Regions from separate parts of the Homo sapiens genome. Here regions 1 and 2 are each linked to region 3. The links come from fine-mapping of genetic effects on gene expression. A gene starts in region 3. Each other region holds a variant in brackets. All regions are shown on one strand. Distances are from middle to middle.

Region 1 (4,247 bases), 120 kb after region 3:
AAAAGGTAGATGGGCTTAAAAGAAATTGAGAATCTCAGAATGAAACTATTAATATACTGAAAAAGAAGAAAAATGAGAAGGTAATTAAAGAAAAGTTATCTTTCTGTTCATTTTTTCATATGAGTTCAGTTTTTGGAAGGATGAATATAAAGATAGGAAATGGGCGCAAAGTAAATGATAAAGACCCAAGAGTAACAGGGACATAAAATATATGAGTTGGGAATAAGGCAAGTCTCATGTAAATGACTTAGATATAAGGCTTTTAAGTGGGGAAAAGGACTAAACATAAACACTGACATACCTCTGTATATCCCAGTTTGGAGAACAGAGTCATAAAGTGTTGAATGAAGTTTCTTATATATTCTTGCATGTGAAACGGAGATTTGGGCCCAGAGAAATATGTTCGGTTGTATTTGGACCTAGATAAAGAACTTTGACCAGAGTATTGGAAGATGGAGTCTTTTTCTGTCATAGGCTATCAAAGCCTAATGTCTGTTTCTGTTCAGCTGACTCTGGTCAGTAGCTGCAAAATTGATCATGGCATCTACAGCACATTCATCAGCCTCACTTCAAGACAGACTTCCTCTGTCTGAAGGCCAAGGTAACAATAAGGGGAAAAGTTTTGTCAGTATGACTTCCCCTTCAACTTTGCTTTCCCTGCCATTCTTTGGGAGTGAACCTAGGTCCCTACAGAGTTTTTCCAGATTCTGCAATGGTTTGGCCATGTTGACTAGATCTAGTTACTCCAGTGAAGGAAATTTTGGATAGACCTCTTAGCCCTGTGACATTTGGAGAAATATGAGAATGTATATGTTGGCCCTTGGCATTTTAGCCTACATTTTGTTGAATTTGGCAAATAGTCTTCACAGTCAGTGGTCCACAGTTATGGCCATCTCTTACTTCACTTAAGTTGGAGGTTTCTTTTCTCTCTTTCATTAGTTTTGTTTTTATAGGTTTCAAGAAGGGAATTTACATAGGAACATTTTTATTTTGTCAAAATGAAAGGTTACAGCTGTATTTCTGAATAACTGGGTTAGGAGAAGCACATCTTTCCAGTAGGCATCTAACAGCCACAGTCTAATTTCTCCAGCTGCAGGATAATTCTAGATTTTCTCTTCAGAAGGTGTTCTAAATCCAGACACTAGTGAAGCCCCATTCAAGAAATAACTTAATCATCCAGATATTTACATACACAAAATTTAGTGAGAAAAGTATGGATAAAATAATGGACCATGGACTATACGTTGAATTCATTAAATCCAAGTGTTAATAATTATTCGGTGCCTACTAGGAGCAAAGCATTGTTCTAGGCATACTGAACAATAGATGAAAATCTCTGCTCTTATGATTCTTATATTCTCATGGAAATACACTAAACAACAGCCAATAAAAAAGAAAAGAAAATATGTAGTATGTCAGATGGTGATATATTCTGTGAAGTAAAATAAAGCAGGGAAAGGCAGAAGTAGAGGATTGGCCTTTGCTTATTTAAATAGGACAGTTAAAATGCTTCATTGACAAGAAAACGTTTGAGTAGAGACTTGAAGGAAGCAAGGGAGCAAGCCATGAAGACACTTGAGAGAAGAGTATTCCAGGCAAGGAGAAGAGCAGTACAAAGGTCTTGAGATGTGAATATACCTGGTCTGATGAGCAGTTGAGAGGCCAGTACAGTTGGATTACCATGAGCAAGATGGAATTGAAACGAAATGAGGCCACAAAGGAAACAAGGGATCAGCAGATTGTGTCTATTCATAGATCATTTTGAGGACTTTGACTTTTACTCTAAGTGAAGCTATTAGTCAGTATTAAGCAGAAGAGTGCTACGTTGTGACTTCTGTATTAAAAAGATTACTAGG[T/C]TCTTGAAAGGGATAGGCAGAAGTAGGGCAATGTATTAGGAGTTTATTACAGTAGTCCAGGTAAAAACAATGGTAAATTGGGCATGGATGATGGTAATGAAGGTGATGAGAAGATCTGAAGGTAAGCTAGGATATACAACAGCAATACAAAAGGAGGTACTAGAGACTGTAGTTAGGCTAAAGAATGTTTGAGGCAGAAGTAGATGAGCAAGCAAGCTAGAAGAATAGGGGCTGAAAACAGGAAATAGGAGGTTTGCATTACTGATTTTGGAGGTTGAGCTATCTGGAGTGAAAATAAGGCTTAGATTGGGTTTATGAGCATGAGGGACTAAAGTGAAGGAGAAGAGAAAATTATGGGAAAGGAGAAGGCAAAGAGATGGGAGATAAAGATATTGATGGTTTCTCCTTATTGACCCTGAATTTACCCAGAAGGGTGGCAGATATTGAGGGGGACAGTAGTCTATGAGCCTGGTTTGTCTTGTTGTCCAGTTTGTGTATAAGAGTTATGAATATATATGTAATAGGGTTCATGCAAACCTCATATATATGCATCCTATAAAATAATGTGATGAGCATATTGCTAAGTATCTATCTAGAAATATCTAGATGAATATGAGCCTATTCCAGATAAACATGTTATAAGACTTTCTTTATTAGACAGTGTTGCTGTTGCTCATTATATCTTTTGGAATTTTAAAGTTGTCTTCAGAGCATATATATGTCATTCATATACCATATTTTTCTGTATATCATTGGACTGGGAAATCTTCGTACTTTAATGCTTTATTTGATTGTGGGAAGTAATCAATAGTCATTTTAACCTATGGCATATCACTAAGTTGAGGAGTGCTGATTATATGTTAACTTTTGGGTTTAAAATTTAAATCTGGCTATAAAATAATTATGTTGATTTTCTTATATGACTTTTAAGCAAACTCTCAAAACAGTTACTAACAAATGCTCTGAGCAAAGCAAAATATTAGAATGGCCTTCCATAGCGATTAGTTCGAAGGAAGTGCCCACATTAATAAATGTTATGGCAAGTTTGACCACAAAGCTCATTTTTTTGTGTATTTGACTTTCCGGTCAAAAAATTTAATATTGTTTATGTAGAATCAAAGTCACTTACCATATAAACTGATATATCACAGAAACTTCCTAAACCATTTCCCATATCTTTTTCATGCTCAAAAACATTGCATGTGTCTCCATTTTCATTTAGGGCCACAGCCTAAGCACAATTAACTTCAACAAATGTTTATTCACTTTTTTCTTATTTAATGCAAAACTACTCTGGGCAAAGCTTTGTACTAAGTGCTGGAGAGCTTCAGAAAATAAATAAGACATGTCCCTGTCCTTGGGGGACCTTACAGTCTAAAAGAAACAAACAAACTCAGTGTAGGAACACAGGGGCAAAAGGGAGAATAGGGCTTTATGCTAGACATTGTGCCAAATTCTTCTATATATGTATCTCATTTACTACTGACAGTAACCTCACAAGTAATTGATCTTAATACTGGTTTACAGATGAGGAAATGTAATGATAAATTGCTTAAGATCACACAACAGTAAATGACAGAGCTGGGTTTTGAAATCAAGAAAGTACTGATTAGAGGCAAAGTAGAGAAATAACCAAAATCTTAGAGATTTAACTGAGGCCATCAGTGCCATGAGCTTTTATATGTGTTTTCATTTAATGAGTATGTACTGTAGCAACTTAGTGTCAGTGTCAGGAAAGTAGTTGAACTCTGTTCTTCTGACTCCTATATGTCTTCACTATTCCTAACCTCTTCTGTAGCCCCTCAAGAATATTAGAACCTTCTGAGCAGCAGGAGAGTTATAACAGGAAATAAAAGATGTTTTTGGCTTTTTGTTGTTTGCTTCTTTGTAATCTGATTGTATTATCTCTCCTTTTGTGTAGGTAAACTTACATAGTGAGAATGACTAGCTTGTACCCACCAAAATCTATATGTTATCATTTTGAGCATTTATGAAACTCAGAGGTGGCACTTATTTAGAATTCATTTGTTCCTTTCTTCAGAACAAATCCTTCTTTTGATCGTGAGTTATAATTTTTAGGTAGATTCTGAATTTGGAGGTTAAAAAAAGTTAAATGATGTATTTTTAAAATGCAATGATTAAATAGCATGACAGATCATAGAGTTGAGATCAAGATGGCTGAATAGACCCAGTAGTATATGTCTCCTTCACAGAGAGGGACCAGAATAGTAAGTAGATACATTTTGAACAGATTGTCTAGGAGAAGACACTAGGATTCACCAGAGAAGAGATGGGAAACACCAGAGATAAGTAAGGAGAGGGTTTGAGGCAGCCTGCATGGCCAGGGACTGACTGAGAGCCAGGAGAGGCTCCTGGACATGGGGAAACAGT
Region 2 (4,247 bases), 230 kb after region 3:
CCTCAAGCAGCTATTTAAAGTGTTAAGCTTAAGCCAGTAATCCCAGCACTTTGGGAGGCCGAGGTGGGCGGATCACCTGAGGTCAGGAGTTCGAGACCAGCCTGGCCAATATGGTAAAACCCCATCTCTACTAAAACCACAAAAATTAGCCAGTCATGGTGGCGGGCGCCTGTAATTCCAGCTACTCGGGAGGCTGAGGAAGGAGAATCGCTTGAACCCAGGAGGCGGAGGTTGCAGTGAGCCAAGATTGTGCCACAGCACTCCAGCCTGGGTGACAGAGCAAGACTCCATCTCAAAAATAAATAAATAAATAATAAAGTGTTAAGCAAGAGTTAAAGTGATTTTTTAAAATAAAAATGGTATGGAAATATATGGAACTAAGTTATGTTACTAGAAAATCAAATTAGAATTTGTAAATCTAGAATCAAAAAAGTATAGACAATTTCAGTTGAAATAAGTTTGGGGTTAAATCAACTCCTTTTGTTTTAAAAGGCTGATTTTAGTTACTGATAGTTTATCATTATGTATGATGATAGTTTTAGGATGGCAAATCTATTTTCATAAACACAGATTATTTAGTCAGACAATGAAAATGTTTTTATTAGCAGGTATAGCAAAGAAAAGCAGATGTCTTATAATAAATAGGACCTTGTGTTCTAAATTCAGAATTATGAGTGATCTATATAAAATTGGGGAAAAATTACAGGGGAAGGGGATACCTCATGCCTACAAGCCCTCACTGTTTCTGAATGTCATGTTCCTTCTACTACTAGAAGTGATGGTCTGGACTATGTTGTAATTTTTTACAACTCATGATGTGAAAAAAATATCATGTAAATATATTTCTGCTATTTTTCTTAAAATGTATAAAATCTATGGATTAGGATTTATGTTCCTAAAAATAACACCCTGGTATTCTACACCAAAGAAGAAATTATAAGGGGAAGGTGATAATTAACAAATATTTAGAAGACTTTATGGAAAAACTGATTTTGTGTTACCTATAAAAAAAAATAAAAATAAAAAGCAACCCCCCCAAAATGCTGTTGATGTTCATGGAGAAAAATAACTGTGTAAACACATTCAGTTTTATAAGAATAAAATGCAGAAATAGTAAGTTGAAACAATTTTCATTAGAGTGGATTCTGATCCCTTAAGAACTTGGGCAGAGACTTAGGGCACGTATCCTCCCCAGAAGTGGAGCTACGTGCGCTGGGTGATGTCACCAGCGACTAGTAACCACCGCAGTGTAAACAAACATCAGCAGGAAATACATGTGGGTAGGGCAAGGGTCTAGAGGCATGCTTTCCTTCTAGAAAAGTCTCACTCCTTTCAAGGCTAGTGTTTTTGTTTCGTTTTGTTTTGTTTTAAGGAAGAAAGGGGACGCAACATAACTCTTGCCTTCTGCTACAGAAACCTTTAGTTTCGTGGGCAGTGTCTTTCCTTGACAAATGGAATCCTTGCTGGCAGTCTCTGTAATGTTGAGAAGTACAGGACTCTTGGCTCTTGCTGCAGTTATTGGTTGCTTGCCCCAGACTGAAAATCTTGTCTGTGGAACTGCTCAGAGGAAAGTTTCAAGTTACCAGAACTAGGCAAGCCCACTGAGGAGCAGGAGCAGGAGGAGAGAAGGAGGAGGAGGAAGAGGAGGAGGAGGGACCATTGAGGAGCAGAAGGAGTAGGGTGCGGGGGAGGAGGAGGAGCGCCTTTAGTGCTGCAGCAGCTGCTGCTCTGATTGGCCCGGTGGTTCAGCTGCTTCCCTGGAACAAAAGGTCAAAGTGGACTGCAGTGTAAATGTAGAGAAGCAGCCGATAAAATAGCATTGCCTGAAGAAGTTTGGAGGCTGAGAGCAGCAGTAGACTGGCCAACTGCAGAGCAAGTTGTTTCTCCAGCCGTGCGGTGCAGCCTCATGCCCCCAACCCAGCTTAGCCACTGTAAGAAGACGTTCACTGTACAGACGACCAAACTTGCCGTGGAAGAGACAGTTGTGAGATTCCCTTGCAAATTTACATACGAGAATGGCTTGTGAAATCATGCCTCTGCAAAGGTAGTATTTTCCTATTTTATTTTATTCTGCTATGTATTTTTTGAGTTGTATCAAGCCATATAACTTTGCCAGTACTTGGCATCTTTTAGTAACATGCTGCAAAGTGTGTAGAGTCCGTTGTACATATGGTTCCTCCCTAAGAACAGAAAAAATTAAATATTATACTGCTCTTTTACTGACATTTTGCCCAACTTATCTTTTTCACTTGATTGTTGTATTTAGTTATATCCTTCTCTGAATGGAAATGAATATAAGAAAATACCTTTGAAATCTGAAGAAAAACATGGACTGAGAAGTATAATGAGCGAGTTTATAATAAAAACTGAATCCGCTTCTTAGCAGTGTTCCTGCTAAGGCTATTTTAAAGGATGTTGATAGGCTGAAGACCTTTTAAAATGCATCACAAGATTCTTCTCTTCTGGAGTTCAGATCTAGGCAAGGATTTTCCATGAATAAGTACATCATAATATGTGAGAATAAATGTTAAGGATAACATTTCCCCTTCAATAATTCCAGACAGATTTATTACACAAATAGCATTTTT[T/A]AAAACTGCTTAGTAAGAATGATTGAGTGCAAGACTGTTTTTGTTCCTTCGTGATTATAATATAGATTGTGGGTCTGGGGGGAGGCGAAGGAGTTATACCAAAGCAGAGAAAGGTAAATTTAAACAAAGGGTCTTATGAAAAAGAACACTGTTGTGAACTAAGAAGTGAAGAATGTAGGCATGGAGAGGGCCTCAGGGCTGCCCAAGGTCACATTTTAGGATTTTAAACATTACCTTTGCTAATCATATTGTCCTATTTCAACTTCAACTGCTTTACATGCAGTGGCATTTCATTCCATAGAAATGTTTCATTTAGGAAAACTATAGAAGGTTTTATTAGTAAAAAAAAAATTTTAAATCAAATAGTAAATGTGGTTTATTTAAGGATAAAAAAAACTAGACAAAAACTAATTTCATTTTTAAAAACCATGCCACAAATATTTCAGTGAATGTTTTTGTTTTAGCAATGAAAAATAAGCTTTAAAACATTGCTTATTTGCAAAATGGTTTCTACAGATACTTACAGTGAGATAAAACAGTATAGTCATTTTTCCTTCACTGTACTAACAAGGACACTGTCATGGGAACCTGATGGGGGTGTCCAAAGAGTTCCTTTTGTAAAAATTAAGAATCCAAGGGAGCAGAAAGTGGTTTACAAATATATCTAAAATTTTTCTACGTGAACTCAGTGAAAATGTCCACATGCTTAAAGCTTGTGAGAGACTAAAACACTTTGTGGAGTCTTGATTTGGTTTCCAACTTTAAAGTTGGAGACATTTTTCCCCTTATAATGACATCAGTTCTTAAGGGTTTTAAGCGAATTGTATTCTAGATAAGAATATTGGCTACTACTGAACTCTAATAGCCAGCCATGTGATGCTCTAATAATTGTTAAGAAGAAAATAGATCTTTATACTGTTAAAACATTGTTTAGGCAATCAAAACGATTAAAGCTAAAATAAAACCATCATTATTTCCTGTAAATTATTTTGTATTTTTAGTCATGATTAATGAACCTAGTAGGAATAAATGCAGGAATAATTTGAATTTGCATTCAAGAATGTTGAGTTGCTACTTTTGTTTCTTTGCATTACCATTCTGAAGAGCGCTGTTACGTGCATTCACTGCCGCAATGTTTACCCAGCTCTTAGAGTTTAATTTGACTGATTTCCCTGCAATCTTTACTGCCAGCCTGTACCTACCTTTGGTTATAAACCTCCTGAAGGTAAAGACCAGGTTTGTGCGGTTGTCTTTGTTAAGCGTGCCTTGTGAATTTAAGCATTTGTGTAGAAAACTTTCCCGCCCTTACGTGTAATTGTTTCTTCAAATCCCAGTTTGGTATCTTTGGCTATTGATTTCTGTGACTCTCGTGGTAATGATGACTATTGCGGACTCTCCCCACCGTTATGGGCCTGAAGCAGGAAGGTTCCAGAGCCTTAGCAGTATTCTTGGAAGGAGTGCTTTGTTCCATTCTGTTTAAGAGCACCAAGGGATAGAAACTACATTGAAATTGGATGTGTAAAAGAATAGCTTTAAATAGCAGCTAAAGAAATTCATGCTCACTGTTTGTATTTAGCAGAGAGTTCAATGCTTCTCATACTTTGAGTGCATGAGAATTACCTAAGGAACTTATTTTTCAAATCAAATCCTTCCTGTTGC
Region 3 (4,247 bases):
TTCACAGAATTAGAAAAACTATTTTAAATTTCATCCAGAATCAAAGAAGACCCCATATAGACAAGACAATCCTAAGCAAAAAGAACAAAGCAGGAGGCATCATGCTACCTGACTTCAAACTATACTACAAGGCTACAGTAACCAAAACAGCACAGTACTGGTACCAAAACAGACATACAGACCAATGGAGCAGAACGGAGACCTCAGAAATAACACCACATGTCTACAACAATCTAATCTTCGTCAAATCTGACAAAAAACAAGCAATGGGAAAATGATCTCCCATTCAGTAAATGGTCCTGGGAAAACTGGCTAGTTATATGCAAAAAACTGAAACTGGACCCCTTCCTTAGACCTTATACAAAAATTATCTCAAGATGGATTAAAGACTTAAATGTAAAACCCAAAACTATAAAAACCCTAGAAGAAAACCTAGGCAATACCATTCAGGGCATAGGCATGGGCAGAGACAAAAATGCCAAAAGCAATGGCAACAGAAGCCAAAATTGACAAATGGGATCTAATTAAACTAAAGAGCTTTTGCACAGCAAAAGAAACTATCATCAGAGTGAACAAGCAGCCTACAGAATGGGAGAAAATATTTGCAAACTATGCATCTGACAAAGGTCTCATATCCAGAATCCATAAGGAACTTAAACAAATTTACAGGAAAAAGACAAACTACCCCATCAAAAAGTGGGCAAAGGATATGAACAGACACTTCTCAAAAGAAGACATTTATGTAGCCAACAAACCTATGAAGAAAAGCTCACCATCACTGATCATCAGAGAAATGCAAATCAAAACCACAATGAGATACTATCTCGAGCCAGTTAGAATGGCAATTATTGAGAAGTCAGGAAACAACAGATGCTAGAGAGGATGTGGAGAAATAGGAACGCTTTTACACTGTCCGTGGGAATGTAATTAGTTCAACCATTGTGGAAGACAGTATGGAGATTCCTCAAGGATCTAGAACCAGAAATACCATTTGACCCAGCAGTCCCATTACTGGGTATATACCCAAAGGAGTATAAATCATTCTGCTATAAAGACACATACACACATATGTTTATCGCAGCACTGTTTACAATAGCAAAGACATGGAACCCACTCAAATGCCCATCAATGATAGACTGGATAAAGAAAATGTGGTACATATACACCATGGAATACTATGCAGCCATAATAAGGAACAAGATCATGTCTTTTGCATGGACATGTATGAAGCTAGAAGCCGTCATCCTCAGCAAACTACCACAGGAACAGAAAACCAGACACCACATGTTCTCACTCATAAGTGGGAGTTGAACATTGAGAACACATGGACACAAAGGGGAAACAACACACATCAGGGCCTGTTGGGAGGTTGGGGGTGAGGGGAGAGAACTTAGAGGATGGGTCAATAGGTACAGCAAAAGAAAAAAGAAAAACAAATTGACAGAAAAAATGGTAACAAAAATAAAAATAGGATAGTTTCCTTTTGGCTTACCTGAAGTGGCTATTTTAGCTATTAGTTCAAATATTTGTAAATTTTAAAATCTATCAAATTTTCTAGTGACAGCATGTGGAAGAGAAAGTTATTGAAAAGTCAGTTAGCTAATTTTTCAGACTGCAAATCACATATGTAGAATTATGGTTGTCTAGAAGTATGTTGTTTATGTTTATCATCAGTATATTTTTATAAGACAACTCATACATAATTAGAAGTAGTAACGGCTACATAAAATAGAGCATTTTCATTTAAAACAATTCTGATGGGGTAGCATGGAAGGAAGAAAATTTTGGTAGAATTTAGCTGGTTTCTAAGGAAGAGTAGAAGAGAAAACTGCCTCAGAAAAAATGAATAATGTGCCTGCAGTTTTAAACCTGAGTCTGAATACGTACATTTTGCTTAGAGCTGTGTGGAATCTGGGAAGCAAGTCTGTGTTTTCACTTTATGCACTGTTGGTTCTATTAATGAAAGCCACCAGGTGACTGGCAGTTTTCGGAGTCAAAGAAGCCTGTGTGTAGGATCTAGGGAGTCAGGTTTGAAAAAAAGATGTCAGCGACTTAAGACCCGTGTCACGTGACTCCCTCTACTTGCCAGCACTGAGGCTGTGGATCAAATTTCAACTCCAGGCAGTCCTTCCAGCCATGTGGGTTCAGCGGAAAGAGAAGCAAAACCACTCTTCCTAAAATGTTAGAAGCTGCTCTTCGCTTACCTTGGGGCCTTTGCATTGGGAGCTGTTTTTCACATCAAAGAATATGTGCTGAATGGAATTTTAGTATTTTGCTGTCGTTTTAATATTTTCGTCTGGTCTTCCTCAGTTCTTCCAGACGCTTTCTGAGAGAATGGGGGCAGGAGCTCTAGCCATCTGTGTAAGTATAGGCCTTCTTCTGTCTTCTGTGTTTACTGCCAGTTTTTAGGAGAGGGCCTTGCCTTCCTTGTTTTGATGAGATGTTTGTGTAACTTATTTTTCCTTCCCAGGAGGTGGGGAAAGATTTGTTACTTAAATTCCTATCTACTTAAATGGGTATTAGGCAGGATTTGGGATGGCATTCAGCATATTTGTGCACTTTAGTTTCCAAAAAAGGTGAAAGATGCATGCTGATTTATTCCGTTAAGTCAACTTGATTTAAAGTAGAGCACTTTCAAGCATTTTAGACTTTCTTGTCCCTGAATAGTTAAACATGAATGCTTCATTATAGCTATTAGAGAAATCTTGTGGCTAGCTTGAGGAGGAATTGAAGTAACCATTAATTTATTACTTTTGAGTATGTGTGTGACATTTTTCTGTTTTATATTTCTATTTTCGTTTAGTAATTCTGGAGTTTCTGTTTCAGCATGATTGCTGAAAGTGATGGTGGAGAAGCTCAGTTGATAAATGTTTGTGTATCCTTAAACTGTAGAAATGAATGGTTGTTATAACACAGTAGCATTAATAAATAACACTGAAATAAAATCCTTGGGAAAATGTGCATATTTCTGGAGTTTTAGAATTTTTAGAATTTATGAATTTCTAAATTATTCTGCTGGTGCTTGTACAAAACCTTTTGTAATAATCAAAAATTGTCAATTATATAATTTGCAGAATGCTGTAATTTAAATTTTGATTGTACTATATAGAAAATGCATATATCTGTATGAGAATTACACATATTTATGTTTCAAGTTGCTATTGTATTCCATAGGGACATTTTATTTTCTAGAATGTATTAAATGAGAAATATCTTCTTCCTTATTATCACCTTAACTGCTCACTTAAAAAATCACACTCAGGCCAGATCCTCTTTTTTTGTGTGTGTTTCAGAAAGAGCTGCAATTTGCTGTAGCTTCTGATGGCATTCTGAAGTGTTTAGAAATATCTGAGCAATTTTTGACACACAGACACCAAATGGTCACCAAATGGTCACCAAATGGTAGACCAGCCCTATAGATTAAGTTTTCTTAGTGAAACTGCAGGATGACCTTGTTTCCAGGCTCAAAACTTTTCAGCACCATGTATGTCACTCTGTCTTCCTTTTAACTCTGAGGCTTAGTAGCATCCAGGTATCCATGTGGTTATTCTTTTTTTATCACCCCAAAGAGTTTCCTTCAAAATCTGATTTATCTATGTGTAAAATACTGACTTTTACTTTACTGCAGAGGTGGCCCTTCTATTTTTCTAGCTTTATAAAAGAAACAATACAGAACTGAAAATGTGTAGAATGAGGCAGCAGATAGGTCATGAAGATTGGTAGTCATCTCTGATTGTCTGATTAGATCTTTACTTCTTTCCCTTGACCTGCAATATATTGATCTCTACCTTGACTGGAATGCACACTGACTCATGTATAAAACTTTATATTTTCCCTTAATTTATATCCAAAGCATGTATAAAATTTCAGTTAAAGTTGACATAAAAATCACACAGTGTAAGAGATTATTCACTCTGGTAGATGAGTAATTCTCAATCATTTCTACCCTTCTCCTTAAGGTTGGCCTTTGATTGTGCTGTCTTGGTTTTACTGTAGGAGGAAATACATTTTCAACAGTTGTACCATAGCATATCTGGAAAAAGATAGCTTTTGGAGAACAACAAAAAAAATTTTAAACATCGTGACAAAAAAGGGAGAACTAAGTCACACATTAATACATTCAATGAGCTGATACACTACTTTTTACTTTGTGTAGGAGTGAAGAGAAAGCTTTTCCTCTGCCCTTTCTGCAATTTTATTGAAACAATTGGCAATAGATTAATAGGAGAAAAAGAGTTACAAATTTA

Direction of the effects. Positions count from the first base shown, and alleles are read on the strand shown. Sizes are in standard deviations (SD) of each study's normalised expression. Not every link is listed here.
With allele T in place of A in region 2, the expression in monocytes of the gene that starts at base 2,114 in region 3 is lower (moderate effect, 0.48 SD a copy in Quach 2016).

What was found.
Region 1: its variant is fine-mapped to the expression of FAM13A in whole blood (INTERVAL, PIP above 0.99).
Region 2: its variant is fine-mapped to the expression of FAM13A in monocytes (Quach 2016, PIP 0.95). The same link has a PIP of 0.9 or more in monocytes after LPS.

The regions. Positions count from the first base shown.
Region 1 is chr4:88,931,420-88,935,666 of GRCh38, reverse strand. All of the region lies in intron 5 of FAM13A (family with sequence similarity 13 member A), which reads left to right. The region is part of intron 1 of LOC105377327 (a long non-coding RNA gene); the gene reads right to left. Among named protein-coding and RNA genes, the nearest start is that of FAM13A, 120 kb to the left of the region's middle. The variant T/C (reference allele first, on the strand shown) is at 1,857.
Region 2 is chr4:88,820,773-88,825,019 of GRCh38, reverse strand. The region is part of intron 7 of FAM13A (family with sequence similarity 13 member A); the gene reads left to right. Among named protein-coding and RNA genes, the nearest start is that of FAM13A-AS1, 110 kb to the right of the region's middle. RefSeq lists enhancers at 1,030-1,716, 1,717-2,404. The variant T/A (reference allele first, on the strand shown) is at 2,589.
Region 3 is chr4:89,055,052-89,059,298 of GRCh38, reverse strand. It overlaps FAM13A (family with sequence similarity 13 member A), which reads left to right and starts at 2,114. Exons shown (of 24, transcript NM_014883.4): 1 at 2,114-2,361. The coding sequence starts at 2,335. RefSeq lists an enhancer at 2,251-2,813.